7 linked regions of the Homo sapiens genome follow. The protein of the gene in region 1 purifies or fractionates together with the protein of each later gene. This does not show direct contact. Each region holds a gene or a part of one and is shown in the gene's direction. Other genes may lie near its edges. The genes, in order: HS3ST4, ITIH2, IPO13, ATP12A, DCP1B, CLTCL1 and INTS7.

Region 1 (4,025 bases):
TCTTATTTGATTAACATTTTTTTTCTCTTTGGCACTAGGTATCTCGTTAATATTTAGACATTATATACATTTTCTTTCAACTGGTTTTCCTATTACGTGATCAAACAAAACCAGAGATGCCAGCCACAGCAGCCAACAAGGGAAAAGCAGCCCCGTCAGGCACCCAGCTGTGGCTGGGGGGCAAATGGTACTCACTAGAGCCACCCCCAGGAGGCACCTGGCAGAGCTCTGTGCAGAGCCAGCCCCGGTTGCAGAAAGCTGAGTTTGTTGGAGTGCCTCAGTTGATCACTCTGTCTCTTTCTCCCATTTCCCTCACTTCCCTGAGCAAAATGCAACAGGAAGCAAAGTCTAGTTGTGAATCTTCCAAAGCCTTCTGATGTTTACCATGTTCCCCCAGGAGAGGGAGGTGAGGGGTGGAGATCTCTCTGCAAAGAAAATACACTTAAAAAATTTCAGCGAGCCGATGCACAGACACCCAGCAACCCAGCTTGTCTCCGCTTATTAGGTGTTCAGAGCGACAGTGGTCCCACACTATTTCAGTCCAGGAAACCATGAACTCCGTTAGTGGCAATGCCCCCGAAGAGGCGCAGGTGTGTGCACCTGTGATTAAGGGTGTCGAGGAGGGGCAGCCTCATCTCTTGAAGCAGAAAGTGTTGTCACCTGGTGATGGGACAGAGGGAAAAGCTCTGGGGCTGGGAAACCTGGGGGCTTGTGTCAAAGCTCCACCCATCAGGAGCTTCAAGAGAAGATGGGGGGCGGGGGGCGGTGGCTGGAAAGATGGAAGTTGGGATGGGAAAGCGGTTGTAGAAAAGGATTCACTCCTGGACCGAAGGCAGGAGGATATCCCGGGCGAGAGAAGGGAGGGTCGGGGATGGGCTGAGTTGGAGTCCCAGAGGAAAAGCGGAAGCGAGAGCTTCGTCACCCGCTGTCTTCCAGCTCCCGGTGCGCGGCACCGGAGGCAGGCGTTGGGCTTTACCTCTCTAAAAGTACTGGGGCAAAGGAATGGAGAACACGGCGTCCCGAGCTCCCAAGGGAGGGGAGTAAACGAGGTGGGGTGGGGAACACCCCAAGTGCGTGCGTGCTGGGGGCTGGGGGGCACGATCTCCGTTCTCCCGGGTGCCCCAGCCCTAGCGCACGCCTCCGCTCCCCCGCCCCCTTCGCAGGCGCGCGCGAGGCGCACCCCCCTTCCCTCGGCGGCGCCGGGCGCGCGCCCGGCCCCCTCCTCCTCCCCTCCGCGCCTCTCCTCTCTCCCGGCAGAAAGTTAGCAGCGGGGAAGGAACTCCGGGCTGCAACAGCGCGCGGCGGCGGCGGCAGAGGCTGAAGCAGAAGCCGCGGCGGAGCCGGGGAAGCGGGGGCGCTGCAGACGGAGCAGGTGCCGCCGGCGGGTCCGCGCGCCCCCCTCGGTCCCCTTGCCTGAGGCTGAGGGGGGGGCGGTGGTGGGGGGGCCACCCGGACTCGGCGGGCAGCGTGGGGCGGGGGGCCATGCGGCCGGGCTCCCCCCTGGCGCAGCGGGACAGCGGCCAGGGCCGGGGGCGCAGCGGCGTCGCTTCATGCAGCCGGGGCGGCTGGGCAGCGGCGGCGGCGGCGGCGGCGGCGGCGGCGGCGGGGGCGGCGGCTGAAACCATGTCCGGGCAGCGCCGGGGGCTGCCGCCGCCGCCGCCGCCGCCGCGAGCCGGGAGCCGCGATGGCCCGGTGGCCCGCACCTCCTCCGCCTCCGCCTCCGCCTCCACCTCTGGCCGCGCCGCCGCCGCCCGGCGCCTCTGCTAAGGGGCCGCCGGCGCGCAAGCTGCTTTTTATGTGCACCTTGTCCCTGTCTGTCACCTACCTGTGCTACAGCCTCCTGGGCGGCTCGGGCTCCCTGCAATTCCCTCTGGCGCTGCAGGAGTCGCCGGGCGCCGCCGCCGAGCCCCCGCCGAGCCCGCCGCCACCCTCTCTGCTGCCTACCCCCGTGCGCCTCGGCGCCCCCTCGCAGCCGCCCGCGCCGCCGCCGCTGGACAACGCGAGCCACGGGGAGCCGCCCGAGCCCCCAGAGCAGCCAGCCGCCCCCGGGACCGACGGCTGGGGGCTGCCGAGCGGCGGCGGAGGCGCCCAGGACGCCTGGCTCCGGACCCCGCTGGCCCCCAGCGAGATGATCACGGCTCAGAGCGCGCTGCCGGAGAGGGAAGCGCAGGAGTCCAGCACCACCGACGAGGATCTCGCAGGCCGGAGAGCGGCCAACGGGAGCAGCGAGAGGGGCGGCGCCGTCAGCACCCCCGACTATGGGGAGAAGAAGCTGCCACAGGCGCTCATCATCGGGGTCAAGAAAGGAGGGACCCGCGCGCTGCTGGAGGCGATCCGCGTGCACCCGGACGTGCGGGCGGTGGGCGTAGAGCCGCACTTCTTCGACAGGAACTACGAAAAGGGGTTGGAGTGGTACAGGTAGGACCCTGGGCTCCGCGGGCTGGTGGAGACGCGTGGGGGAGACGCGGAGGGGAAGCCGCGGCTTTCCACGCCCTTCGAGCATCCAGGCACCGTCCCGAGAGGCCCAAGCCCCCGCGAGGGCTCTGCAAACCCTGGCGGCGTTGCTCAGGGGGATCGGCTGAGAGGGCTGGACTCCAGCGAAAGGTCACTTTATTTCAGGGCGAGGGGAGGAGGTGTCACCCTGCCCTGCCTCCCGCGCTCCTCATCCAAGGAGGTGCTGTCTGAATCTGCCCAGCTCCAAGCCTGGGAACCCCCAGCCCTCCTGCCTGCTGGGTGTTTCCGAAACCAGGCTCTTGCGGGGTTCTGGGATTCTGGGCAGAGGACTTTGAGGAGTGAGACAGGATGGCTAAATTGACTAAGGGGATTTGAGGTCCCCTGGAATCTCTTAAAATCACCCTCAAACGCATTTGCGTGGCTGGAATTCAACTTTAGTGTGTTAAGGTCAGAGCAAAATGAATAGGGAACAGTTACAAAGATCATGCTGGCGTTTTGGCTTTCTAGTAAAGAAAGGATGCCTCCCACCTCCGTAACTTTCCATCCCCCTTGGCTGAATGAGCACGGAGTTGATTTTGCACCAGAAGCCTCAATGTCTGCATGACAGTTGGTGCCCTGAGAGTTTTTATGCCTCAGACCGTGCCCTGTCTAATCTCCGCCTCCTTCGCAACAGATTGGAGCTTCTGTCTTGTGAGATGTTCATCTCCCTCCTTTCCCACCGTCTGCCGGTGGTGAGAGAAAGGTAGGAGAGAGGACTAGAAAGTTAAGTGCAGGTAAAATAAATTAATAATCCAGCTTTCCTGCCAGCCATAACATTTTAAACGGCACTGGTGCAGATGCCCCAAACGCAAACCTCCTTCGCCTTTGTTGTTTCTCTTTCTCTCTTTCCTCCTGTTTTATATCTTTCTGGGAAACAGATCTGCATGGCTGGCTGCATCTCCATTGCATTTCGGTAATTAATTGCAAATGTCAAACAGAAACACAGCCTTTGTCAGCTGAAGTGATGTTATCATCTTAGCAGAGCCAATAGGTAAAATCAAGATTGTTTCTCTGACAGGTTGCCTGCCCGTTGAGGAGATGTGCTTTCTAGGTTTAAATTACAGCCTGGGAAAGTTTTAGAAATAACTTAACTGAAGAAATACATAATAAATGTGTGCATTATGATTGATTTCTTCCACTTTTAAAAATATGCCTTATGCTTTAAAAGCTTGAGAGAAGTACACTTAGTCATAAACATTCCAGCACATTACAGGGAAGCAGCAAATGTGTCTGTTAACGTCTTGTCTGTTTCAACAGAGAGAACTAATTGCAGTATTTTAGGAGGCTTCAAACAGCCCCTTCCTATCAAAACATAAAACAGCAAATGCCTAATTTAACTGGAAAATCAGTATTTATAACATCAGAAGCCATGGCTTCCAGTTTGTGATTATAATTAAAAAGGTGTTAGGATGATTAATGCAGCAACAGCAAAATAAAGAAGGGGCACGATGTCTGGGAAGGTTTTAGTTGTTTAATTGCTGGTTGTAGGAATGTTCTGGTTTCTTCTGTGGAGTAGCTTTGGCCTTATGAGG
Region 2 (3,500 bases), on another chromosome or scaffold:
CCTCTTCCTTCTCTTTCTCTTTTCCACTCTCTATCCAATATTTCCTTGAAAAACTGTCTCAAAACTCACCTCTTTGAAAAACAGAATCTCTATATAACCTCTTCTTTCAAGGATCAGTCACATTCTTTTTGCTCTTCCACATGTTTTATTATAATATCTTGTCATTGTCCACATATGACTATTGATTCAATATATACATATTATTTCTAATTATATGGTAATTGCTTGAGAGCAGCTATCCATCTTATGTTTTCCAGCTCAGAGCTCAATATAGGCTTACTTAGTGATAAGTGAGATGTACAGATGCAATACTAAAGACCAAACAAGGAAATGATTTAACTTACCCATCAATCCATCCATCCATTCAACCAAGTTGAACAACCAACTAACCAGTCATAGGGCAACTATTTTTGACCACCCAAGAGTTCACTACTACCCTAAGATCTGTAAGGAACCTAAAAGAAGTCCCTGTCAGCCAGGCACAGTGGCTCACGCCTGTAATCCCAGTACTTTGGGAGGCCAAGGCAGGTGGATCACCTGAGGTTGGGAGTTTGAGACCAGCCTGACCAACATGGAGAAACCCTGTCTCTACTAAAAATACAAAATTAGCCAGGCGTGGTGGTGCATGCCTGTAATCCCAGCTACTCGGGAGGCTGAGGCAGGAGAATTGCTTGAACCCAGGAAGCGGGAGTTGCAGCGAGCAGAGATCGCGCCATTGCACTCCAGCCTGGGCAACAAGAGCGAAACTCCATCTCAAAAAAAAAAAAAAAAAGAAGAGGAAGAAGACGAAGACGAAGAAGAGGAAAAAGAAGACCCTGTCTTTCACAGACCCTGCCTGCCTGGGTCTGTACTCCCAGGCAGGGTTTCTCAGCAGTGGGACTATTGATATTTTGGATGGGGTCATTCCTTGTTGTAGGAGGGCTGTCTGGTGCATTGCAGGATACTTAGCAGCATGGTCTATGGTCTATTTGCTAAATTTTGGTAGCACAACCTCCCCTGCATCATAACAATCAAATATAACGTCAGACATTGCCAAATGTCCGCTGGGGGGAATAATTGCCTCTGGTTGAGAAACATTGCTCTAATACAACAGTTTATTCACTGCTTCCTTCCTTCCATCACTCATTCATTTAACAAATATTTACGAAGCACCTACTATGTGTCATACACTTAGTTCATCTATGAGCAAAACAGACCCAAAGCATAAAAACAGAAACCAAACAAAAAACAGAAAAAAAACGGATGCCTACCCTCTGTGTGCTTATGAAACTTACATCTGAGGGATAGGGGACAGAGAATAAACAATACACATGCAAGTACAAATGTACAAGTACGTTCAATGGCAGCATTTTGATAAAAGTTTTTTTAAAAAATAAAAGAAGCATATGTTAAAAACCAAGAGTGGCAATTGCAGGGGTATGCAATTTTAAATAGGCTTGTCATCTAAATAGGTGGTTTCCTGGAGAAGACCTCTGAGGAGACCCTGAGAAGGTGAAGGGAGAGTTGTGCAGATATCTAAGGGAATTAAATGCAATGAACAGCTCATGCAACAGTTCTAAGTCGAAAGTGTGCAAAGAACAGAGAGAGATGCCAGTAGAGAGGGGCAGTGGGAGATGAGATCTGAGAAGTGAGAGGCAAGGTGGCTCATGGAACACCTGTGCAGTCATGATCAGAGCTGGATTCTGGAATCTGTTTTGAAGGTAGAGTAAACAGTATATCCTGAAGGGCTAGCTGTGAGGCAAGGGAAGAAAAGAGAAGTGAAAGATGCCCCAGGACTTAGCCTGAGTGACTAGAAGGATGAAGTGGCCATCCATGAGTTGACAAAGACAGAAATGTAATCAGACATTGCAGGGAATGTCCCAGTTTGGTTTTGGATGCAAAGTCTGAGATTTCTATTAAGTACCCACGTTGGCCATGGAAGCGTGGTGTTCAAAAGTGAGATGTGGAGACACACAGTTAGGACTCCCCAGCATATAGAAGGTACTGTCAGCATTGGGACTAGGTGAGAATGCCGAGGAGTAGATGGACAAGGGAGCCAAGATCAGACAACAGAGCATTCCAATATTGGGAATTTGGGAAGAAGAGGATAATTGGTGATAGAGACTAATAAAAACAATTAGTAAGTGGGGGAGAAAAATCAAGAGAGAATGAGGCCCTGGAAGACAATTGAGGAATTTGTGTTCAGGAGGGAGATGAGAGCACTTGCCGGTGCATGAGAAATGAAGATGGACCTTTGGATTTAGTGACATTAGCATCATTGGTGACCTTGACAAGGGCAGTTTCAGTAGAGTGACAGGGATGAAAACCCGAAAGGATTGGGCTTATGAGAGAATAGGAAGAGAAGATTTGGAGACAGTGTGTTTAGACAATTCCTCAAGGAATTTTATTGCAGAAGAAAGCTGAGAAATGAAGAAAGTGGATGCACATGAGGTTTGTAGAAGGGTGAGAAATAACATGTTTTTGTTGATGGAAATGTACCAATAGAATAGGGAAATTGAAGAGGCAAAGGACAATTGCTGGAGCCATGATCTTTAGTCAAAGAGAGGGAATGAAATAGTTCATGAATAGATGGGTTTGCATTAGGTAGAAATACTGCTAGTTGTTCTTTATTATCAGGTAGGAAAGAAAAATGTATGGGTACAAATATTGATGGTTGGGATTTTATGGTAGTGGGAGTCTGTGGGAATGTTCTTCTGTCTGCTGCAGTTTCTCAGTGGAGTTGGAATCAAAATCATCACACGTAAGCTAGAGAAAGAGGGTGATGGTGGTGGTTTAAAGAGAAAGATGAGGAAATAGTTTAAGAGACTGGGTGAGTAGATGGACTTGAGAAATGTATTTTATTTTCAGGCATCATAAAGGTGGCACTCGAAGTTTGTGATCCTTAACATAAAGACTAGTCAAACTGGTTGTGCATAGCAAAATAGATAGTAAAATTATCAAAAAGCCAACAGTACATGCCCAGAATAAATAAGGGGCAGGTCTGCATTGACTGAGGTGGGCTCAAGAGGTTTTCTGGAAGAAGTTTAGCTTGAGAAGAACTTGAAAGATGACCAGGATCAATGATTGGTCTTCCTAGTTCCTCTGAGGCTCAGATTTTCTGTAATGGGACCTGTCTTTATTCTCTATTGAAATAGACTGTGGAAGCAATGAAGACCATATTGGATGACCTCAGAGCAGAAGACCATTTCTCTGTGATTGATTTCAACCAGAACATTCGAACTTGGAGAAATGATTTAATTTCAGCTACAAAAACACAGGTTGCAGATGCCAAGAGGTATATTGAGAAAATCCAGCCCAGTGGAGGTGAGTGTGTTGGGCTAAATCCCAAGGAGACACTTCCTCTGGGTTCAAATCATGATTCACTTAAGAAGCATTATTCCCATCACAGTGGTCTTTCCCCAGCATTCGAGGGCCTATCTTAAATAATACATTTATTGGTAATGGATGAATGCTAAGTTTGTAGTGAAAGTAGAATTTGTAATACAGCCCACATAAGCTTT
Region 3 (3,500 bases), on another chromosome or scaffold:
CCCCATAGAGATAAGGAATCTTTTGGGAAGACATTTAGAACTCCCCAATATCATGAGAAGTGCTTAACGTAAGGACTCTAATATTAGGGTCGAGTGACAGTCAGGCATCTGTTTTAGCACCAAAGACCTGCCTTTGGTCCCTTTTCAATTCAGGTTTTTGTTGCTGTTGCTGCTCCCTGAGAGGAAATGTTAGAGATGTAAGTCGCAGGAGTTAAGTTCCACAGTTACATCCTGTGCCCCTCAGTGAAGGGCCTTTGCCCCCTGCCTTTCAGGGTGAGGGTCAGACTTGCTTACCTTCCTTGGTTTGCAGGGCCAGGCAAGGCTTATAGGTAAGGGCCCAATCGTAGGCCCCCTCTGTGCAGGGCTTCAGCGCTGTTCCAGCCAGTCATGACCTGCTGACCAGGGCCCCTTTGCTTTCTTCCCAAGGCGGTGTGCGCTATCTTTGAGAAGTCTGTTAAGACGCTGCTGGATGACTTTGCCCCCATGGTGCCACAGCTGTGTGAGATGCTGGGTCGGATGTACAGCACCATCCCCCAGGCCTCTGCTCTTGACCTCACTCGACAGGTGGGCCTTCTGGTTGGGGCAGAGATCCTGACCCTGGGTGGGGGTGGGTCAGATGGCTGCCGTGGCTGGGGTCCCCACTTGCATTCCAGGGATATTGCCATGTCCTGGTGAGACTGGGTCTCAGCTGACCAGCATTCCCTGCTTTCTCGTAGCTGGTCCACATCTTTGCTCATGAGCCTGCCCACTTTCCCCCAATTGAGGCCCTCTTCCTGCTCGTCACCTCCGTCACACTCACTCTCTTCCAGCAAGGTAGGTCCTGACCGGGGTCTCTGCTGCTGCTGCCACTGCCACTGCCTCTGCTTCCCCAAATGGGGAGCCAAAGCTGCCCACTCTGTTCTTCTCTGTCCCCTGAGTCACACGTGGGACTTGATGGGAAACCTGTGAGATCAAGCACAACACCTTATAAATAGTTGAAACTTTAGGTTGAAGTGGATAAGAGGGTGAATGATGTCTTCTGCTGGCCTGCTGGGCTCAGGGCCAGTCTGGATATGGAAGAAGGAAGTGGGGGTGGGAGGTGGGCAGAGGCTCTGAGGGGCTTGGGGCACTAGGCTGGCTCCTTTACTTTGGGATATAATGAAAAGTGGAAAGAGCACGGGCTTTTGAAGTCAGCTAGACCTAGATTCTAAGTTCATCACCACCAACTAGTTGTGTGTCCTTGGGCAAGTCACTTACCTTTGCTGGGCCTTCATTTCCATATCTGTGAAACGGAGATAACATATACTTGAAATGATTGTTTACAGGTATTAAAGTCACATCTTCTGGGCCCTTGGCTCAGGGGCTTTTGCACAGTGAAGTACTCAGAGACTGTTGGTTCCTTTCCCTGCATCAAGGCTTAGTACTTTCTAGGCCAGAAGTCAAGTACCTTTGGCTGTGGTCCTAGCCCTCTACTCACTGTGGCCCTTTGCCTGAGAGAGTTGGCAGCAGGGGCTTCATTCAGGCTTCTCGTGTTGTCTAATCCAGGCTTCCAGTTTGGAGAAACAAAAACAAAAAAACAGCACTGCTCAGCTAGCCTCATGAGCCTTGCCTGGATTCATGGTCACAGGTTTGAGGCTCACCAGGGGTCTCGGTTGGTGCCCAGAGTACTCGCAGCTCATATCCTCAGTGCCTGGTCTCATGATCCTGGCCTCTGTTTCTGTGGGCCATGGAGTAGGTCCAAACTGGGGAGAAAACTGAACCAGAAACCTGGTGTGGTCATCCTCAACTCCACCTCTCCCAACTCCCTGTACCCAATCTGGGACAAGCCCCATTGATCCTGACTCCTGATTCTCTCTCGGTTGGTCCACTTCTACCCACCTCCGTGGCCACTGCCTCAGTTTAGGGTCTCACCTGGATTATCAGCAACCTTCTAGTGGGTTTTCTTGGCATCTCCCCTTCTCTCCAATCTGTTCTGCACACTGCAGCTATAATCTTCATAAAAACACAAATCTGAGCATTTGTCATCCCGGGCTTAAAACCCTTTCATTGTTCCCATTGCCCTCAGCTTATTGTTCCATTCCCACCCACATGACAAGGCTCTGGCATGCCTCTAATGTCCTCTCCTGCCAATGTCCTCATGACTCCAACATTTCAGCCACACTGCCTCTTCCTTACCGTGTCCCATTTGATCCCTGTGCCTTGCTCCTCTGACTGGAATGTCCTATGCCCTTTACTGGGTGAACTCTCACTCCTTCATGCCTTAGAAAGGAGGAAGACTGCATCACTTCTCAGAGTAATTTCTCTCTGAGGCAGAATTGGGTGCTTCTAACTGTACTGAAACTGCATCCCATACACACTGCTGACACAGCACTGATCACACACAATAATCAGCTTTCATGTCTGTCTCTCTTACTAGACTTAAGCCCCTCAAGGGTAGGGTTGAGTTTCTTCTCTCTGCATCCCCAGTGCCCAGAATGAGGCCAGAATACAGCAGGCCACAGACACTGTTAAATAAAGGAGGGGGAGGGCTCCCTGCCCTTGGAACCTTTCCTTCTCATTTTCTGGCCCACCTCTAGCAGGGTGGCTGCTGAATATCAAACCTGCATGGTGCACACTGGGCCTCACTTTCTAGGACTTAAATAACTCAGGGTTCAGATACCAAAGGGACAGACTTTATTGGTGACTCTTCATAGCCTAGAGAAGGAAGCAGGGCAGAGATTATCTGCTTTACAGATGGGGAAACTGAGCATTTGTGGCTTGCGCAAGATCACACAGCTACTTAGTGGTGTCTTAGGCAGATGGTTTTGTACCACATCCTCCTGAGAGTGGAGAAGCCTGGGTAGGAGCTCCAGGTGCATGCCATATTCTTGCCTCAGGAATGATCAGAACTGGAGGCAGCAGTGTCCAACATCATATACGTTGGGCTTGTTGGTTGTCTCGCTGGACAGGATGGCTCCCATACCTGTTATGCCATCCCAATCTTAGCCATTCCTTCCTCGGGCTCTGCCTTCCCACTGGACCATAGGATGACATGTTTCTTGTTTCCCTGTTTCTTGGCATGTCCAGATGATGGGAACTAGTCCTCAGCCCTGAGCTTGGCTCTCTGCAGAGTCCATGTCCATGTGGAGGAGGTTTGCTGGGGTGGGGCTCTTGTTTTTGGCCTTATGATACTGTTTCCTCCTCTGGGCCCTGCCAGTGACTTGCCAGGCCATCTCCAGAGCATGCTGGGCACTGCCCTACCTAAGCAAGAGTCCTGTGGTTTAAGTGGACTGAATAGATTATTTTCCTTTGCCAGACCAAGAGCCCTAAGGCCATTGAAGTGAGGTGGCACTTACTCAGGCTCTGATGCCCTGGCCTTTCTAGGGCCCTCAGATAAACCTCAAAAGGAGATACCAAGGACTGACTCCCCCACCCCCCCACCGCCATCCCAGCTTTCCTCTTCAATGACTGGCTGATGGGAGGTATGTGCTAGGAGCAGTGTAGGGCTACCCCAACCTGCCAGAGGCCACAGTAAGTGTGGT
Region 4 (3,500 bases), on another chromosome or scaffold:
CTGAGGGGAGTCTCTTTTGTGCTAGAGAGCCATTTGTTAAGTATTCAGAAACTTGGCAGGCTGACTGACATCCTGTTAGCAGCTTCAAACTTGGTTCTAGTGAGAAATCAGCAAACTCTACAAATCCGAGCTTTGTATTGATCGTTCCTGGAGAGTTTGTTAAACATTTAACAGTATACCACTGGGCATTTGTCCGTATCTATCATGAGAGACATTTAAGAACGCTTCCCTGAAACTGGACTGACCTCAATTCAAATCCCAGTGTAACTGAAGTTCAGTTTCCTATTTTGAAAAACATAAGATTTTTTTTTCTACCTCTTAAGGGTTACTAGGAAGATTAAATGAGATAAAACAGGGAAAAGACAGCACAGCACCAGACGATAGATCGTTCTTATTATTTCCCATTATCTCTAGCATTTAAGATTGAAGACATATCTGTTTTTCCCTTGACATTACAAGGGTCCTGTAATTTTCAGCAGCATATTGAATGCTTTTGCCTCCCAACCTTTCTTGGCAAATTAGTGCCTAATGACAACTGAAGTATCCCGGCCTTTGAATGAAAGGGCCAGGCAGTGACCCGAGGGGTGGGTGGGGTGCTGCCCTGTGCTAGTCCAGTGCTGGCCAGCAGAGGGCACCCCAGATAACCACCACCACCTCGTCCCACCCCTCCCCCATGCTCTCATCCCCCAGCCCAGGAAGTCTGAGGTCCCATGCATGCAAACAATGGCTCGGATCATCCACTACTTGTATCTGCCCAAAACTTAGTGGGTTGTGCTGTGCTCTGTGCAGAACACAGCCTTAATCTTCTGAATCCCCAGCAATATCACACTCAATCAGTATTAGTAGAAGGGATGAAGGAGCAAAACAGAATCTGGCTGAGAAGAGGGCTAGAAGCAAGATAATAATGATAATAATGAATTCTGCTTTATTGGAAGGCCTAGTCTCTTACTGCAACATGGAACTATTTTTTGCATATACTTAAGAAAAGAGATGATGTGAGCACCAGTCAACAGTATCAATCTTTGTTTCAGACAATCAGGGTTTAAAAAATCCTGAGTGCTGGACTTTCTAGGGGGAGTGAGGAAGACTTACCCTAGGTTTTCTGCTACAGGAAGAGACTTCTTGTCCTTTAGCCCAGTGGTTCTCAAAGGGAGAGGAGAAGAGGATTCCCCCACCCCTCTCCCAGGGGAAAAATGGAAACATTTTTGGTTACCACAACTGAGGGGAGGATGTTAGTGGGTGGAGCCCACAACAAAGAATTATTCTCCCAGAATGGCAGCAGGGCCACGGGTGAGAAACCCTGCTGTAGTCTAATGATTCTGTAGCAGAATTCACAAGTGGCAGCCACAATGCTGTGGGTTTATTCAGCAGAACTTTTCCCTGCAGGGTTTCTCTGCCCAGTGAGCTCCCTGAGCGTCACAGCTTGAGTGAGGGAAGCTGCTTTTCCCTGCCAGAGCCCACACAGCGAAGGAGGAGGAGTTGTGCCAGCCCAGGAAGCGGTTCTAGTGTGGTTTTGCCATCAGCCCCAGCCAATCCCAGGGTTCAGGCCTGAGGGAAGCCTCCAGCTCACTGGCACCTGGAAGATGAGGGTGCCAGAACCTGTATGCCCTGGAGTTCAGATTGAAGCGAGGTGCATGGCTTTGTTCAGAAAAGCTGCAGGCAGCTTCTGGGTAGTAACAGCAAGTGCAGGATTGTGCCGACTCAGGGACAGTCACTCCTGAGGCAGTGCCATCCTTCGCTGGGCAGCTGCCTGGCACAGGGGTTCTTTCTCTCCTGTCCCCCACACTCCTCGATCCCCTCCCATCCTCAGGGCTGCTACTCCCAGCTTCCATGGCTGGTCAAAGCTTGGGGCTTGAGTCTTTTGGAATTATCTAATTCACTCTGTTCTTCCTTTCATGGACTTCAGGATGACCACAAACTCAGCAATAGGGAATTGGAAGAGAAATATGGCACAGACATCATTATGGTGAGTCGTGGGAACCAGGGATTTGGAAGAGAAGCCTCCCAACTCTACAGAGGGAAGGCTGTGTGTGGCGGGGGGCTGTGTGGAAGAGTAGCGGCACCTTTAGGAGGAGGGGCCCCTGCAGCGCCTTTGAGACTGCAGTTATTTGCATCTGGACACAGTTCAAGTCAACAGAAAAACCTACTGTGGGGCTCACACTGGCCTGGCAGTGAGAGGGACCAAGAGGGACAGATGACCCCTGGCCTCAAGGAGAAAGTGGCCGGGTAGGGGAGGCAAATGTGTATGGAAGTGTCCTGAGATTCACTCTATCCCCCTGGGATGGCTACAAGAAGTAGAAACGCTATGCTGGGACAAAGGTGGATTCTGATGGAAGGGGCCAGAGCCAGCTCTCGGGCTGCTGCCATGTTTGCGCTGGGACTCAAAATGCTTCGGATTTAAGCTGGTGGGGGACCCCAGGGCCAGTAAGCACAGAGCCTGCTTGGAGAGAATCTGGGCTTGCCGGAAGCTAGTATGTGTGGAGAGGGGACAGGTGCAGCAGGAATGAAGCCAGGAAGGTCATCTGGGTGAAGCTGTCAAAGTATTCACATTAAACTAATGAGTAGGAGCTGTCTTAGAGGCAGAAGGGACATGGTTTCCACACATGGAGGTGCTTTCATTGGTTTTCAAAAGGCAGTTCTCATAGAAGATTCTTTTTTTAAAGTGAGAAATGGAAGGGTCTAGAAGAATGGAACAACAGCCCAGGACTGTGAAATGAGGATCTGAAATAATGTCGAAAGACATTACAGGGGCCAGACGTGGTGGCTCAGGCCTGTAATCCCAGCACTTTGGGAGACTGAGGTGGGCAGATCACCTGAGGTCGGGAGTTTGAGACCAGCCTGACCAACATAGTGAAACCCCGTTTCTACTAAAAATACAAACAATTGGCAGGGCGTGGTGGCACATGCCTGTAATCTCAGCTACTCAGGAGGCTGAGGCAGGAGAATCTCTGAAACCCAGGAGGCAGAGGTTGCGGTGAGCCAAGATCATGCCATTGCACTCCAGCCTGGGCAACAAGAGCAAAACTCCATCTCAAAAAAAAAAAAAAAAAGGGCCGGGCGTGGTGGCTCACGCCTGTAATCCCAGCACTTTAGGAGGCCAAGACGGGCGGATCACGAGGTCAGGAGATCGAGACCATCCTGGCTAACACGGTGAAACCCCGTCTCTACTAAAAATACAAAAATTAGTCGGGCACGGTGGCGGGCGCCTGTAGTCCCAGCTACTCGGGAGGCTGAGGCAGGAGAATGGCGTGAACCTGGGAGGCGGAGCTTGCAGTGAGCGGAGATCGCGCCACTGCCCTCCAGCCTGGGCGACAGAGCGAGACTCTGTCGAAAGAAAAGAAGGAAAGAAAGAAAGAAGGAAGGAAGGAAGGAAAGAAAGAAAGAAATTGCAGAGAGACACAACCAGCAGGACTTGCGGGGATTTTTATTGAGCCCCTCATCTCGCTAGTCATGTCACAGCAGCAGGAGGAGGAGAGCCGGTCGGGTGATGGGCTGGGGTG
Region 5 (3,500 bases), on another chromosome or scaffold:
TTTTTTAGTATTTTGAATTCTGAATTGCTTATTTCTTTAGCACTTGTTAGATTTTATAATACAGTATAATATTAAATCCTCAAATTGTACTTTTAAAATTTAAGCTAAAATACCCCAGGACTGGTAACTAATACTTTCACATAAAAGTCCTCCTTAAAGGATCTAAGGAACATCTAATCTTGTTTTAGCTATTCTCCACATCCCTAACCCTGGACTTTGCTCAGAAAGAAAAAAAAAATCTGGTTGCCCTTGGATAACTATGGAGGGGCCAGGAAAATGCGTGAATTTGGGCAGCTGTAATAGAACAGAAATGTATATTTTCAAAGTCTCTTTTATCCAGGTGTCATAGAGCGCCTGACGTTTTTTCATCAAAAGATCTGAGTAGTGTAAGCTGATTATCTCTCTTTTTTTTTTTTTTTTGAGACGAAGTCTCGCTCTTGTTCCCCAGGCTGGAGTGCAATGGCGTGACCATGGCTCACTGCAACCTCTGCCTCCTGGGTTCAAGCTATTCTCCTGCCTCAGCCTCCAGAGTATCCAGGATTACAGGCGCCTGCCACCACTCCTGGCTAATTTTTGCATTTTTAGTAGAGACGGGGTTTCACCATGTTGGCCAGGCTGGTCTTGAACTCCTGACCTCAGGTGATCCACCCGCCTCGGCCTCCCAAAGTGCTGGGGTTACAGGCGTGAGCCCCTGTGCCCGGCCTGGTTATCTCTTTTCAATGGAGAAACTGAGACATATAATAATAAACTAATTAGCCCAGCATGATCTGGCAAGAACCCCACTACAGGTCCCAGGTTGTGATTACTGAAACACAACTCCTTCCTATGAACAAACTCATATTCTTTGTGTGTAATGCTAAATAAAAATCTTAGTTTTAAGAATTACTTGTTATAAGTTAGAGATTAATTTTAGGAGAAGCATGCCTTTTACATTTTTGACCTTGGAATTTAAAAACTAAAATGTGGCATTAAAGGTTTTTTTTTTTTAATTAAGAAAAGAGAATTTCTGTTACATCAAGGAAGAAAGGAAACAAGTCAGAAGCTATTTAGTTTTATGTGTGCTGATATATATAGATATCCTTATTCAGATCTCTAAGATGAAACAGTCCAAGGTCAGATACTGGAAGACCAGGAGAGTGTTTTGATCTTGTGGGGAGTGATCCTGACTACATAGAGGTTCTGCAAAGTCCTAGTTCTATCACCTGTATCTTGGCTCAGTTTCCTAACAATGTAATGGATAATACCAAATACTTTCTACAAATTTATTTTTAAATGCTTTGTGGACTTGTGAATACTTGCTGACTGAATCAGTTAAACTTTAGGGACAGCCAAAAATTTGTATACTGTTCAGGTAGCATTTACTGTACTGTAGGGGCCATTTTCCTGATTAATACTTTGGTGGTTTGGGTGTAAGTAATTCTTAGTGCTTCAGGTACACTCAGGATATACATTTGTCAGCAGATAGGAATTAACCATGTTTGTTTTCAAAGAAAGATAAGTAATGTTTCTGTATATATATTTTTTCATTTTGACTTGGATATTTTTCAAAGTACAGGGGCAAACGAGCCACATTTCAGAAATAAGGATATGTTTCACAGTATGTTGTGGTGATTTATACAAACTTCATAGTGAATCTAGTTTAAGGATGAACTCCCTGACTTACCTATGCTTTTATGTTAGGGAAAAAACTGGCTAAAGTTGTTTTAATTGTTATTTATTTATTTATTTATAAGAAACAGGGTCTCCCTCTGTTGCCCAGGCTGGAATGCAGAGGTACAATCATAGCTCACTGTAGCCTCAAACTCCTGGGCTGAAGCAATCCTCCCTCCTCAGCCTCCTGAGTAGCTGAGACTACCGGCATGTGCCACCACACCTGGCTAATTAAAAAAATTTTTGTTTTGTAGAGGCAAGGTCTCACTATGTTGCCCAGGCTGGTCTCAAACTGAACTCCTGGCCACAAGCGATCCTCCTGCCTGCCTCAGCCTCCCAGAGTGCTGGGATTACAGACATGAGCCACTGTGCCTGGTCTAAATTCTTTATTTATAATTTCATATTCCATAATAATAAACATCTTGAGATTAAATATTTTGTTACTAGGTAATGATTTTTTATAGCCATTTACTCTTGATAATAGCTTGATATGATTTGTGCCATAATGGATTTTGTTTTCAGGACTTGTAATATAATTTCATGGGCAGAGAGTATGTTGTTGAACTAAGGCAGTGAGTGGCTCTCAAACTAGCATACATCAGAATCACCTGGACAGTTTAATAAAACCCAGATTGCTGAGCACCATCCCCAGAGTTTCTGATTCAGTAGGTTTGGGCAGGAGCCCAAGAGCTTGCATTTCTAATAAGTTCCCAGGTGACGCTGATGCCGCTGATCTGGGGATAACACTTTGAGACCCACTGAACTAAAGTGAATGAGAAATTTGCTGAAATTGCCTGAGCATGTGAAAGGATCATGCCTTGTGTGCCTTTTAAAAACTGCTGTTTTGACATTACGCTTTTTTTAAAAGGGCGTATTTTTCACCAGAATTACAGAGTACTTAAATTTTGAATGATTATGGTGATGAATATTAATAATAAAATATCAGGGGTTTAAATAGAATGCTGAAATTAAACCATGTAAATTGCAAAAGTACATTTTAAATTCTGAATTACAGTAGGTCTGGTTCGTGGTTAGTCAAACACCTGGATACTTACATGTGTGTTTTTTAGTATGCATTATATGGATGAATATTATAATGGCCTAGCTTCCTGCCTTTGGAGAAATGGAAAAGAAATGTGAAGTGACCTAGTTAAACCATCATTTTAACTTTACCACCTCTCCCAGATTTTCTCAGGCAGATTTCTTGAGTCCTAACTTGGTAATACTTGTGTAACTTTACTTCAGTGATCTCGGGTCAGACCTTGACTGTAAATATACTACACTAAGTAGGTGATTGATTCATCTGAGAACTCTGTGGCATCATTGCCCTCTCTGTCTAGCAGTCAAAGTAAAGTTATTGACAGATCATCTGCTCTCCTAAGTCACTGGATATGGCAGGAGAAAATGAACCCAGAAAACAAAATGAAGGATAGTGAAATGCAGACACCAGTGATGTCTGCAGCTTTCTCTATACCCAGTGTGGTGGAAGGAGAAAAAGGCAGCACTCTTCTTTCTAATTAAATCCGCATAGCACACTTATTTTCTCATTGTTTCAGCTAAGGGTATGCTGCTATCCCTGTATTTGGTAAAGAGAGATAATGATGATTTGTTTTATAAATGACAAAAGAAAGACTGCTTCCTGCTGCCTAATCTGCAGAGGCACAATGATGACATAGAACTTGCTTTCTCCTTTTCCTGAGAATAACTCCTCATGTTGGGTATATTTGGCCCATTGAAGTTATATATAATTCCTATTCTATGAGAATTTGTTTTATACCTTTGTGAATTGAAGAGAACATACATGTCTTGTGTGTTTTGTTTTTATTGTTTAGGAGAAAACTGATGTGGAA
Region 6 (3,500 bases), on another chromosome or scaffold:
CACTGCAACCTCTGCCTCCAGGGTTCACGCCATTCTCCTGCCTCAGCCTCCCGAGTAGCTGGGACTACAGGCACCCACCACCACGTCCAGCTAATTTTTTATATTTTTAGTAGAGACAGGGTTTCACCGTGTTAGCAAGGATGGTCTCGATCTCCTGACCTTGTGATCCGCCTGCCTCGGCCTCCCAAAGTGCTGGGATTACAGGCGTGAGCCACCGCGCCCAGCGTGTTTCAAATATAAAATGTGTTTTTTATTTTATTTTCTTGAGACAGAGTCTCGCTCTGTCCACCAGGCTGGAGTGCAGTGGCATGATCTCAGCTCACTGCAGCCTCTGCCTCCCCGGTTCAAGCGATTCTCCTGGCTTCAGCCTCCTGAGTAGCTCGGACTACAGGTGCGTGCCACCATGCCTGGCTAATTTTTGTATTTTTAGTAGAGATGGGGTTTCACCATGTTGGCCAGGATGGTCTTAATCTCTTGACCTCGTGATCCGCCCACCTCAGCCTCCCAAAGTGCTGGGATTACAGGTGTGAGCCACTGCACCCAGCCCATTTATTTTTTTGAAACAGAGTTTCACTCTTGTTGCCCAGGCTGGAATGCAATGGCGTGGTCTTGGCTCACTGCAGCCTCCGCTTCCCGTGTTCAAGTGATTCTCCTGTTTCAGCCTCCCAGGTAGCTGGGATTATAGGTGCCCGCCACCACACCCAGCTGATTTTTGTATTTTTATAGAGATGGGGTTTCATTATGTTGGCCAGGCTGGTCTCCAACTCCTGACCTCAGGTGATCCACCCGCCTCGGCCTCCCAAAGTGCTGGTATTACAGGCGTGAGCAGCCACGCCAGGCCCTCAAAGTATGTTTTAAAAACTGTAGATGAACTAAATTTTACTGCCCTGAAACAAGTAATTTGTTTTACTATTTGTTTACCATCCATATGCTAGGCACAAGGATAAAGCAGTGAGTGAGACTGGGAAGGAGACAGATACAGAAAGAAAAAATATTGGTGTCCACATAGGTGTGAAAACATGGGGATGTTCAGTGCAACTTAAGCATTCTGGCTTCACTGATGTAGGCAGTTGATGTTCTCACTAATACTCTTGTACAAACACAGTTGTAGTCCTCCCAGGCAGACATCTTCCTTAAGCCCCTTATACATAGAAACCACAGGACTATCAGATGAGTAATTTCTTTTTGCATATTCCCCAGTGTCAGATTTTTTTTTTTTTTTTTTTTTGAGACAGGGTCTGTCTCTGTCACCCAGGCTGGAGTGCAGTGGCACAATCTTGGCTCATTCCAGCCTCTGCCTCCTGGTTTCAAGCGATTCTTGTTCCTCAGCCTCCTGAGTAGCTGGGACCACAGGCGTGTGCCACCATGCTCAGCTAAGTTTTTTATTTTTACTAGAGACAGGGCTTCACCATGTTGACCAGGCTGGTCTCGAATTCCTGACCTCCAGTGATCTACCCGCCTCGGCCTCCCAAAGTGCTGGGATTACAGGCATGAGCCACCATGTCTGGCCCCCATTGTCAGATTTGAATTTTGATTGATTTAATTGCAGGCTTTGAGAACTGAAAAGGATCATTAGACAGCATCTTCTTTACCTTTCTTTAGTTAAATCTTATATATGCCATTTAAAATGTGTAGCTAAGGTCCAGTGCAGTGGTGCATGCCTGTAATCTCAGCACTTTGGGAGGCCGAGGAAAGTGGATCACTTGAGACCAGGAGTTCAAGACCAGCCTGGCCAACATGGCAAAACCCTGTCTCTACTAAAAATACAAAAATTAGCCAGGTGCAGTGGCGGACACCTGTATTCCCAGCTACTTGGGAGGCTGAGGCATGAGAATCGGTTGAGTGTGGGAGGCAGACTTTGCAGTAAGCCAAGATTGCACCACTGCACTCCAGCCTTGGCGACAGAGCAAGACTCTGTCTCAAAAGAAAGAAAAAAAGAAAGAAAATTTTTTTAAAAATGTGTAGCTAGGTTACCTATCAGAATAATATACTAGGGATCAGGAATCCTTGGTTATTTCTACTAACTAGTGAAAAAAAAAACAAACCTGGGCCAGGCCCTGTGGCTCACGCCTATAATCCCAGCACTTTGGGAGGCCGAGGCGGGTGGATCACTTGAAGTCAGGAGTTTGAGACCAGTCTGGCCAATGTGGTGAAACCCCGTCTCTACTGAAAATATGAAAATTAGCCAGGCGTGGTAGTGGGCACTTGTAGTCCCAGCTACTTGGGAGGCTGAGGCTGGAGAATCACTTGAACTGGGGAGGCAGAGGTTGCAATGAGCCGAGATGGTGCCACCACTGCACTCCAGCCTGGGTGACAGAGTAAGACTCTGTCTAAAAAAAAAAAAAAAAGGAAAGAAAGAAAGAAAAAACCTGGCTTTTCAGCACATCACTTTTCTGGGACTTAGTTCCTGCGTATGGAGAAAAACTCACAGTAGTATCTGGCATCTTAGATGGAAAAGTTATTTTTGTGGGATTGTCCTGTATTGAGCATTCCTGGCTAAATGAGTAGAGAATGAGTTCCCCACTCATTGTACTATTAAAACTACCCTTGCCCATTTCTTTTTTTCTTTTTCTTTTTCTTTTTTTTTTTTTGAGACAGAGTCTCGCTCTGTCGCCCAGGCTGGAGTGCAGTGGAGTGATCCTGGCTTGCTGCAGCCTCCACCTCCTGGGTTCTCCTGCCTCGGCCTCCTGAGTAGCTGGGATTACAGGCACATGCCACCAGGCCTAGCTAATTTTTGTATTTTTAGTGGAGACGGGGTTTCACCATGTTGGCCAGGCTGGTCTTGAACTCCTGATCTCAAGTGATCCACCCGTCTTGGCCTCCCAAAGTGCTGGGATTACAAGCGTGACCCACTGCGCCCGAACCCATTGCCTATTTCTTTTTTTTTTTTTGAGACGGAGTCTTGGCTCTGTCGCCAGGCTGGAGTGCAGTGGCGCGATCTTGGCTCACTGCAGCCTCCGCCTCCTGGGTTGAAGCAATTCTCCTGCCTCAGCCTCCCGAGTAGCTGAGACTACAGGTGCACGCCACCATGCCTGGCTAATTTTTGTGTTTTTAGTAGAGACGGGGTTTCACCATATTGGCCAGGATGGTCTCCATCTCTTGACCTTATGATCTGCCCACCTCGACCTCCCAAAGTGCTAGGATTATAGGCGTGAGCCACCGTGCCCGGCCGCCCCTTTCCCATTTCTGAAGAATGCAGAATAGCACTCCTGGTTGAGAACTACTGTCTTAATTTAATCTGATTCTAATAGTCTTTATCTTATTTTTGGATCCACTCTTCTCAGTTGTTAAAACACTGTCTTATTTGTGAGGGACTTTTACCTTTTTCAAATGCCATACATGTGTATGTATGCTCTTAGATAAGGAACTTGACTCAGCTACTATTATTTAAGAACCCACTATGCTCAAGAGATTGGATACAAATTATTCAGGATTACCAATTCTTGGTATTTGGAGTTGAAATCAGAATGTCACCGTATTAACCCAACATCGATCCCCAA
Region 7 (3,500 bases), on another chromosome or scaffold:
AAATTTGTGTTCACCATGACCACAAAGCCATGCCATAGAGAAAAGATTTGTTGGTTTCGCTCCACTGTTGACAGGAAAACGTGGATTAGGGTTAGTCTTCATGGATCCAGTCGTGTATGCAATAAAGAAAGGCATTTACTACACAAAGTTCAGAGGACTTCGAAACCATTCTACACACAGTTTATTCACATCCTGATTATGATTTAGTTGTTGAAGGAAATAATTAAAATCATAAGTATAATCAGACTGTAGCCATCAAGTGTGTGTGTTTGTGTATATATATGTATATGTGTATGTATAATTTTTTTACTATGACAATGAGAGGAAATAGGCAGCAAATATGACTTTGCTTTCTACTGTGCTTTTTAAAGGCAGTTTTTATTATCAGCATGTAGTTTTATAATCATTGAAAAGTTAATGTCAAGATAAATACTTAGGAAAAAATATTGAATTTATCAATTGGTTCTAGTATAATCTTTAATGTTATAAATATATTAGTATACTGTGTTTTTCAAGTGCAATTTTGCTAAATGAGTCACAGCTTTTAAATCTGGAATATTATTAAGGATGGTGATCACAAATACCTTGAGAATTATTTTTGTGTCTAGGTTTAGCGACACCAGTAGACTTGAAGCTAAAATTGATACCCATTCTACAGCACATGCACCATGATGCAATCTTGGCTTCCAGTGCTCGTCAGCTTTTACAACAGCTGGTCACATCCTATCCGTCCACCAAAATGGTGATTGTGTCTTTGCACACTTTCACTCTGCTTGCAGCGTCATCTTTGGTTGATACACCTAAGCAGGTAATTTCAATTTTCTTTAAACTGCCTATCTTTGGTAAACTTACATATTAAATATATGATTAGAAATAAGAAAGTGGCCCACAAGTCTTGAGGACATTAAGGTTCTTTTCTCTAATAAAGGTCAGATTAATTTGCTTTTGCTTGCTTTTTTATTCTCTCTGTTCACAGTACTGATTGTTGGGAGCCCTTGAGGAAAATGAGATGTTATGGAGTACATGGCTGGGTGTGAAGTTGGCCGTATAAAAAAAAAAAAAGAAAGGATTGAGTATCTGTAAAATGCCAGGGCCTGTGCTAAAACTTTAAAGTTAAATGGTAGTATTTTACAAACATGGAGAAAGAGGCCCAAATGTGGGCACATAGCTAGTGAGTGACAGGGCTCTGATTTGAAGTGAGTCCTGTCCCTTTATAAGTTTCACTAAACTACACTGCATTTCTAATGATCATTTCAGTTACAGTATTGTTTATGGAGTGACTTATTTCCTTTATAGATTCAGCTTCTGTTGCAGTATTTGAAGAATGATCCCAGGAAGGCAGTAAAGAGACTTGCTATTCAAGATCTGAAATTACTTGCTAATAAAACACCACATACTTGGAGTAGGGAGAATATTCAGGTATGTAGAACTTGTAACATTTTATATAGAAAAAATAATATAACATTATAATATAGTAAAATGTTTTGCATTTTTATATTGTCTTTGTCATCTTCTAAGTGGTTGAATATGAAAAACTTCTAAAAGCATTGTTGATGTTTGTGGCAGTTATTTTATAAGTGGCACAATAAATACATAAAACTTCTATACTTCAATGTTTGTTTTAGTCAGTGAAACTTGCCACTCAGTTGCTTGTTCATTCTCCCATAGTGGCACTAAGGCTAATTGAGAAGCCCAATTACATTGGTTTGGTTTTTTTATTCTTGTATTTTTCAGTCAATTTGGGGAGAAAAATTTAGGGGCTGAATGTTATCTGTAATGGAGGTAGGGCTGGATGGGCAACTTGGGAAATATATTTCTCTCTTCCTGGAGAGCTGAAGACATTCCTAAGTCTTCTTTTGTAAACAGAAGAGCAGATCTCACTCTTTAGACTTTTAATGTGCATCTTTGACACCATCTCTTACCATCTGTTAGGTTAAATTAATATTTTATGTTTATTTTTTTCTCAAAATAGAACCCTGTTTGTTTACCCATTACCGATAGAAATAACACCATTTTGCAAATAATGCTATTTAAAATGGAACGGTAGTTTTTATCTCTCAGCTTCATCATGACTCCAGTGGATTAAAAATCTTTGAATTTCAGATTATTAAAACTAAACTGCTGTGTTTGTTTTTCTGTTTGTTTGTTTGTTGTTTTCTAAACATCTTTTAATTTACTATATTATGATTTGATAGTCACAGATATCCCAAGATAAGGGCAGTTGTTAAATCTGCATTTAATAGATAAGCAGTTAGGGTTCAGAGAGACTTAATATGCTTAAGAGAGCATCTTAAGAGAAGTAAATTAAGAATTTAATTAAGAGAGCTTCTGTCCTCTGATCCCTAGTCTTATTGCTTTTTCTACTAAATAATGCTATCTTTCCAAGAAGAGAATGTGCCCAGCCACTTTAGTCATTTTAGAGAATTTGTACAAAGAACCAAACCCAGTTATTTAGAAAGATGAGTGAGAAGCACAGTATTATTCCTTCTCATTTTTTTCTTATTGTGAGATAGATCATACATACAGAAAAGTATGTAAAATATATAAATAGTTTAAATACCTTTAAGTGAGAAAAGTATGTAAAATGTATAAATATTTTAAATACTTTTAAGTGAAAACCCATGCAACTACCATCCAGCTAGAAATAGAACATTACAGGATCACAGAACCCTGCCTCCTTCCCTTGCGTGGTCCTTCCTGGTTGAAACTTTACACCTTCCAAAAGCAAACCACCATTTTGACTTTCATGATAATAATTTCTTTGCTCTTCTTTTACCTTCTTCACATGTCTTCCTAAAGAATACTGTTTAGCTTTGTTTTTGTTTCTTTTGCTCAGCATTACACTGGTGAGACTCATCCATGTCTTTCCCCTTTAATTGTAATGTACTATCCCATTGTATGAATGTATCACAGTTTATTTGCTCTCGATGGGTTATTTCCGCATGGGCCTATTGCAAACAGTGCAGAACATTCTTCTGTTTGTCTCCCAGTTCACACACGCAAATTTCTTTAGAGTGTATACCTGGGAATGAAATTTCTGACTTACAGAAAATGCGTATCTTCAGTTTTAACAGATGATGTCAAACTGTTTTCCAAAGTCAATGAACCAGTTTACATTCCTGCTGTGTATGAGGGCGTCCATTAATCACATCCGTACCAACACATAGAATTATCAGACTTACGTTTTTTACCAGTTTAGAAGTTGTACTTTTTATGTGTAGCTCCTTGATTATTAAAGAAATTGAACACCTTTTTAATATGTTTATTGACCATTTGGATTTTCTCTTATGACATGGCTATTCAGGTCTCTTGCCTATTTTTCTGTTGATTCATAGTTATTTTTTATATATTTGGAATACTCATACTTTGTTAGTCCTTGACAATTCTATATAAATTTCAGAATCAGCTTGTCAAATTTAACAGTTTGATTGGGATTACACTGAATATAAAGATTAGTTTGTAAGAAATTGGTAACTTTATAATATTGTCTTCCAGTGCAT

Evidence for each region.
Region 2: the proteins of HS3ST4 (region 1) and ITIH2 purify together in Homo sapiens (affinity purification with mass spectrometry; one large-scale study listed by BioGRID and IntAct). This does not show direct contact.
Region 3: the proteins of HS3ST4 (region 1) and IPO13 purify together in Homo sapiens (affinity purification with mass spectrometry; one large-scale study listed by BioGRID and IntAct). This does not show direct contact.
Region 4: the proteins of HS3ST4 (region 1) and ATP12A purify together in Homo sapiens (affinity purification with mass spectrometry; one large-scale study listed by BioGRID and IntAct). This does not show direct contact.
Region 5: the proteins of HS3ST4 (region 1) and DCP1B purify together in Homo sapiens (affinity purification with mass spectrometry; one large-scale study listed by BioGRID and IntAct). This does not show direct contact.
Region 6: the proteins of HS3ST4 (region 1) and CLTCL1 purify together in Homo sapiens (affinity purification with mass spectrometry; one large-scale study listed by BioGRID and IntAct). This does not show direct contact.
Region 7: the proteins of HS3ST4 (region 1) and INTS7 purify together in Homo sapiens (affinity purification with mass spectrometry; one large-scale study listed by BioGRID and IntAct). This does not show direct contact.

The regions. Positions count from the first base shown.
Region 1 is NC_000016.10:25,690,734-25,694,758, forward strand, and holds the start of HS3ST4 (heparan sulfate glucosamine 3-O-sulfotransferase 4), read left to right. Parts: upstream 1-1,225; 5' UTR 1,226-1,684; coding exon 1,685-2,418; intron 2,419-4,025.
Region 2 is NC_000010.11:7,723,816-7,727,315, forward strand, and holds part of ITIH2 (inter-alpha-trypsin inhibitor heavy chain H2 precursor), read left to right. Parts: intron 1-3,134; coding exon 3,135-3,303; intron 3,304-3,500. UniProt on the Homo sapiens protein: May act as a carrier of hyaluronan in serum or as a binding protein between hyaluronan and other matrix protein, including those on cell surfaces in tissues to regulate the localization, synthesis and degradation of hyaluronan which are essential to cells undergoing biological processes.
Region 3 is NC_000001.11:43,960,450-43,963,949, forward strand, and holds part of IPO13 (importin-13), read left to right. Parts: intron 1-426; coding exon 427-564; intron 565-716; coding exon 717-813; intron 814-3,500. UniProt on the Homo sapiens protein: Functions in nuclear protein import as nuclear transport receptor. Serves as receptor for nuclear localization signals (NLS) in cargo substrates.
Region 4 is NC_000013.11:24,683,408-24,686,907, forward strand, and holds part of ATP12A (potassium-transporting ATPase alpha chain 2), read left to right. Parts: intron 1-1,906; coding exon 1,907-1,966; intron 1,967-3,500. UniProt on the Homo sapiens protein: The catalytic subunit of a H(+)/K(+) ATPase and/or Na(+)/K(+) ATPase pump which transports K(+) ions in exchange for Na(+) and/or H(+) ions across the apical membrane of epithelial cells.
Region 5 is NC_000012.12:1,997,958-2,001,457, reverse strand, and holds part of DCP1B (mRNA-decapping enzyme 1B), read left to right. Parts: intron 1-3,482; coding exon 3,483-3,500. UniProt on the Homo sapiens protein: May play a role in the degradation of mRNAs, both in normal mRNA turnover and in nonsense-mediated mRNA decay. May remove the 7-methyl guanine cap structure from mRNA molecules, yielding a 5'-phosphorylated mRNA fragment and 7m-GDP.
Region 6 is NC_000022.11:19,281,720-19,285,219, reverse strand, and holds part of CLTCL1 (clathrin heavy chain 2), read left to right. Parts: intron 1-3,500. UniProt on the Homo sapiens protein: Clathrin is the major protein of the polyhedral coat of coated pits and vesicles. Two different adapter protein complexes link the clathrin lattice either to the plasma membrane or to the trans-Golgi network.
Region 7 is NC_000001.11:212,004,558-212,008,057, reverse strand, and holds part of INTS7 (integrator complex subunit 7), read left to right. Parts: intron 1-608; coding exon 609-808; intron 809-1,296; coding exon 1,297-1,419; intron 1,420-3,500. UniProt on the Homo sapiens protein: Component of the integrator complex, a multiprotein complex that terminates RNA polymerase II (Pol II) transcription in the promoter-proximal region of genes.